Regions from separate parts of the Homo sapiens genome. Here region 2 is linked to region 1. A link means that fine-mapping ties the variant in region 1 to the expression of a gene that starts in the linked region. Tissue or cell type: esophagus mucosa. Region 1 holds a variant in brackets; the other region holds the start of a gene. All regions are shown on one strand. Distances are between the middles of the regions.

Region 1 (2,911 bases):
CTCCAAAGCCTGAAGGCTAGAACAGCTAAGGTACCCGAACAGCAAAGATGGTGGACTACACCTCCCCCAAGGAGCTCCTTCTTAGGGAGGTGTAATGCCACTACTGGTAGCCAGCTGGAACTCCAATCCAGTAGGTCTTATCTTGTGAGGTGCCATGGAAGTGGGGCCTGCAGGCTGTTGCTGCTCAGCCCTCTGGATTCTGCCTCTTTCCTACTATTCTACTTTCCCACTTTGCTGAAGCTGCAGCTACTTTTGCCAGAAATCCCAAGTATCTAAGGCTCCAGGGTCTCTGTGCACGCCTGAGCTCTGCTGAAACTCCACATAGCTCTGACTGTCAGACTGAATGCTGAAGGCCCTGGTGGAGTGGGTTCACAAGATCTCCTGACCTGAGGTTTGCAAAGATCTGTGGGAGAAGCATGGTTTCCAGGGGTCACTCATTCACTCATTACTTCCCTGGGCATGGGAGGATCCTTTGGCTCTGTGTTGCTCCCAGGTGGGCTGTTGTCCTGTCTCACTTTTCTCCCTTCCCTGTGGGTCAAGTTGTTTCCTTGATTAATCCCAATGGGCATACCTGGATGTTTCAGTTGAGCATATTGTATTTACTCACCCTTTCTCTTCCTTTCCATGACAGCCATGCACACTAGCTGCTTCTAGTCAGCCATTTGGCCACTCCTTGTATTTTGGATATTAAGTTTTTATCAGTACCATCATAAAAACAGACCTATAGACCAATGGAACAGAATAGAGAGCACAGAATTAGACGCACACATCTATAGTTAACTGATCTTCAACCAAGGTACCAAGAATACACAACAGGGAAAGGACAGTGTCTTCAACAAATAGTGTTGGGAAAACTCAATACCTGCATGCAAAAGAATGAAATTAGACCCTTATCTTACACCTTACACAAAAATAAACTCAAAATGGGTTAAACATTTAAACATAAAATCTGATACTAAAACTCCTAAAAGAAAACATAGAGGAAAAGCTTTATGACATTGGTCATAATTAACGAATTTAAAGTAAAACTTTAATTAAATTAACTCTAATTAAAGTAAACTAACTCTAACTAAAGTAAAAATTTGGCAAAACGAAAAAACAATTTTTAACTTTAAGATACCAATGACCTCTCATTACTTATTTTTCCATATCCAAACCTGGGCCTCAGTTCTTTTTCTATTTTCCGAAAGTTAATTTGTATTGAAGTATAACATATAAATAGAAAAGTGTATATATCTTAAGTGTCTAGCTTGATAACTTTTCTTTTCTTTTCTTTTCTTTTCTTTTCTTTTCTTTTTTATGGAGTCTCGCTCTGTCACCCAGGCTGGAGCGCAGTGGCAAGATCTCGGCTCACTGCAACCTCCAACTCCCTGGTTCAAGCAATTCTCCTGCCTCAGCCTTCTGAGTAGCTGGGATTACAGGTGCATGGCACCACACCTAGCTAATTTTTTTGTATTTTTAGTAGAGACAGGGTTTCACCATGTTAGCTAGACTGGTCTCAAACTCCTGACCTCAGACAATCTGCCCACCTCAGCTTCCCAAAGTGTTGGGATTACAGACGTGAGCCACCTTGCCTGGCCAATAAATTTTCTTTAAGTGAACAAATCCATGTAACCAACACCCAGATCAAGAAACAGAGCATTACCCCAGAAGCCTCACTTTACAT[C/T]CTGTTCTGTCACTATCTCCCAAAGGTAACTCTATTCTAACTTCTAACATTGTAGGTCAATTTTATCTGTTTTGGAACTTTATAGAATGGACTTATATAGTATGTACTTTTTTATCTGGCCTCTTTTGCTCAATACTTCGCTTGTAAAATTCACCCGTGTTTTGGATGGAGGTGTAATTTGTTCATTCTCATTGCTGTATAGTATTCCAGTGTATGAACACATCACAATTTATTTATCCATTATACTGGTGATGAATGTTTGGAATGTTCCAGTTTGGAGCTATTACAAATAATGCTGATAATAATGATGCATTGTCTTATACATGTCTTTTGATGGAGAAATATTTGTATTTCTGTTAGGCATATACTAGAAGTGGAATCGCTGAGAGATAAGATATGTGTATATTAAGCTTCATTAGATACTTCCAGTTTTCCAAATTTGTTGTAAAAATTTACCCTCCCACCAGCAGTGTATAAGACTGCTTACATTTAATACAATTAATTTTTTATTATTTCACATTTTTCCATTCCGGTAGGTATAAAGAAATTTCACACTGTGGTTTTAATTCACATTTCCCTGATGACTAATGAAGTTAAATACTTTTTCATATGTTTACTAGTCATTCCAGTATCTTTGTTTTTTTGGGGGGGTTATTTTTGTTTTTCTTTGTGATTTACAAGTGTTTCTTATATAGTCTAGATACAATCTTCTGTTGGATCTATACATTGCAAATACCTTTACCTGCTTTGTGACTTCTCTTTTCACTTGTTAATGGTACCTTTTGATAAACAGAAGTTCTTAGTTTCAATACAATCCAATTTAACAATGTTTTCTTAAATGGTTAGTACTTTTATGTCCTGATCATGAAATCTCTGCTTATCTTAAGGTCATGAAGATATTCTCTATTTTTTTCCCTAAAAGCTCTATTGTTTTGCTTTTCACATTTAGATCTCTGATCATGCAGCTTTTGATTTAACAGACATATGGGTGTAGCAGAAAAAGGCTCTGGGCCCTTGTAAGAAGTAAGAGTAAGAATTAAAACCATCACACACACTAATGAAGGCCCCCAATGAACCAAACCTTAGTAAAGTATAGACTAGAAAAAAATCCCACTTCATAATCATATGAGAAAACAAGCACTTAGCTGTTTTGACTTTAGCATTATTGTATATGTATCAGTGAAGTCTCTTTTAAGGATTCGTACCACAAAGAGTTAAGGCTAAAATTTATATGACTTGTATGTC
Region 2 (2,911 bases), 59 kb after region 1:
ATGCCTGACAGTTTTGTCCCTTGTCTCATTTCCTGCTACTCCCTTCCCCACAAATTCTCACCATCAATATAGCCAAACTGCCACACTCGTGGCTTCACAAACATACAAAGCTGCTCCCTACCCCTGAAACTTTTCATCTGCATTCCTTTTATTTGGAATGCCCTTCTCAACCACCCACCCTAATCCTGCTACTTTAGAAACTAGCTCCATTTGTCCCTCTTCCAGAAACCTTTTATGTACCCACCCCAGTCCACCTCTGAGTAGTGCTAACGATGCCCACCCATTTCATTTGATCCTTGGCATCCCTTCGTGTTACTCAGGGGAAAACCAAGACTCAGAAAAGGAAAAGACTCTCAAGGGTACACAGCATATCAGCAGTTGAGTTATTTATCCAAGGCTCTAGTTCATGAATCCTCCCACTAGCCAATATACATGTCTTGTTTCCTTATATAGACTATAATTTCCTTTAAGGAAGGAATGCCTTGGCTCTTTCATCTTTCCAGGGCCTTACTGGAGTGTTAAGAGAATTCTAGAGTCAGACTGAGTTTCTTTTTTAGCTGCTCTGGTTACTTTAGGCAACAACCACACTAAACCTCAGCTTCTTTGTATGTAAATGAAGATAACAGTAGTACCTATCTCATAACACTGTTGTGAAGATTGGATGACGAATGCATGCAAAATGTATAGAGCAGTACCTAGCACATAGTACGCGCTCAATTAAGGCTATTTTCTTTATTGTTATTCTTAACATTAACAAATGCTTGCCGGCAACGGTTGACAAAAAATTACAATGTGAGTTACTGGGAGTGAGGAAGGCAAGCAGACCACAGGGTCAGTGGAGTCCAAACAAGGTTAGTGGCGCGTCAGGATGTTTGTACGTCCGAATTCCTAGTGCCATGTGACTCTGTGAGGGCCCAAGCACATGGTTCCATCCGGGCGGCGCAGCTTCTCTAACTCTCAGTCAGCTATTCTCAGCAGCCTGTAGGGGGAGCCAAAAAGCTAGGACGGGGGCTGGTGCTTGGGTGGGGGGCGGGCGGGTGGGGGGTGGAGGCTGCTGGAAATATTCCTAAGGGCAAACACCGACACCCCACCACTACTATCTTAGCCCACCGCCTTGCCCCCTCCAGGACGCTCTCCAAACTCAGTCTTCCTCAGCAGCTAAGCTGGGAGCTGTCCTTCAGCACCAAGGGCCGCCTTGTCCTCGGGCAGGACGGTGAGGGCGAAGGTGGAGTTAGGGACACTGGACTGGTCCGATCCGCAGCCGGCTCGAGCGTCTTCCAGTCACGGGGACGGCGGAGGCGACCCAGAGAGGCAGCAAGCAGCTACGAGATGCCTGCTGCTCCTTGCCTCCAAGAATCACCCTCAGAAGTCCCCTAGCCCTCGGGGGAGTGAGGGACGGCCATGGAGAGGAAGGCGGGCGCCCGGGTTAGTGGGGGAGGGGGAGCGCCGAGGCCTGGGACTCAGCGTGTGGCATGTGCACGCGGGCAGCGGGCGGATGAACGGAGGCGCTGAAGTGAATGGAGTTGGGGGTGGACTGGAAACATCCCCAAACAGCACCGGCTGCGGCCGGCGGGGGCTGGGGCGGGGTGGGGTGGGGGGAGTCCTGAGGCGCAGGCGCAGTCGGGGCACCAGTCCCGCTCCCTCCTCCTCTCCGTGCCTCTTTCTCCGCCCTGCTCCCCGCCAAACACACTTGCACAGGGGCTCTCAAGGTGTTCTCCGCACAGCGGAAGATGGCGACAGACTGAGGGTGCATGGCCAGCGGGAGCCACGGGGCCGTGCCGCTGGGCTGCAGCCACAGCGGTGCGAACGAGAGGCGGAAGCGAGAGGCGCACTAAGTAAAGCCCGGTGTCTGCGTCCGGCGCCTGTGGCGCTGCCGGGAGCCAGGTGGCCCGCCCGAGCCGGAACTCCAGGAGCAGCGGGTGCGGAGCCAGAGCGGAGCCCGCCAGGGACTGGCCCCGGCGAACACCCGGAGCGCGAACGAAGCCCGAAGGGCCCGGCAACGGACCGGCCGGCCGGCCTAGGAGGGCGCGAGCGAGGCAGGGAGCGGCGTGGAGCGGGCAGCGGGCGGACGGGCGGGAGCGGAGCGGCGCGGGGCGAGGGGAGCGGAGCGGAGCGCGGCGGCGGGGCCCGCACGGCGGCGCTGAGGGGCGCAGAGCTGCGCCGAACCGAGACGGCCGGTTTGGAGTGCGAGCCGGGCGGCCGCCGGCGCGGAGTGAAGTGGCACGGAGCCGAGGGCAGCTGAGGGGCCCGACACTATGAGGAGTGCGGCGCCGCCGCCGCAGCCGCCACCGCCCCAGTGCCCCGCACCGCCCCCAGCCGGGACGCCGGGCAGCGCCTAGCGGGCCGGGCGGCGGCGCCCGGGCTGAGAGCGACGGAGCGCGGGAGCGGCGCGGAGACGGCACCAGAGCGCCCCGCGACTCCGGCCTGAGCGGGGCATCGCGCCGGCCGGCCTGCCTCACCATGCAGCCCCCGAGGTAGAGCCTGGACGGCGCCGAGGAGCGCAGAGCGGCGCGCAGCCCGCCCGCCCCAGACGGCCGTCTGGCCTCGCGCCTGCCTGTTCCCTCCAGCCCGGACCCCCCTGAAATATGTTCAGGGGCGCTTGGATGTGGCCCGGGAAAGACGCCGCCGCGCTGACTATCTGCTGCTGCTGCTGCTGCTGGGCTCCCAGGCCGAGCGACAAACCTTGCGCCGACTCCGAGCGGGCGCAGCGATGGCGACTGTCCCTGGCGTCCCTGCTCTTCTTCACCGTGCTGCTCGCTGACCATCTGTGGCTGTGCGCGGGGGCCCGGCCCCGGGCCAGGGAGCTGAGCAGCGCCATGCGGCCCCCATGGGGGGCCGGCCGGGAGCGGCAGCCGGTGCCTCCTCGCGCGGTGCTGCCGCTGCCGCCGCCGCCGCCCGGCGAGCCCAGCGC

Which allele goes with the higher level. Positions count from the first base shown, and alleles are read on the strand shown. Sizes are in standard deviations (SD) of each study's normalised expression.
For the expression in esophagus mucosa of the gene that starts at base 1,629 in region 2, allele C in region 1 goes with a higher level than allele T (moderate effect, 0.43 SD a copy in GTEx).

What was found.
Region 2: NALF2 starts here. The variant in region 1 is fine-mapped to the expression of NALF2 in esophagus mucosa (GTEx, PIP above 0.99). The same link has a PIP of 0.9 or more in esophagus muscle.

The regions. Positions count from the first base shown.
Region 1 is chrX:69,443,786-69,446,696 of GRCh38, forward strand. No RefSeq gene overlaps it. Among named protein-coding and RNA genes, the nearest start is that of NALF2, 59 kb to the right of the region's middle. The variant C/T (reference allele first, on the strand shown) is at 1,667.
Region 2 is chrX:69,502,698-69,505,608 of GRCh38, forward strand. It overlaps NALF2 (NALCN channel auxiliary factor 2), which reads left to right and starts at 1,629. Exons shown (of 3, transcript NM_015686.3): 1 at 1,629-2,911. The coding sequence starts at 2,586. RefSeq lists a silencer at 2,582-2,755.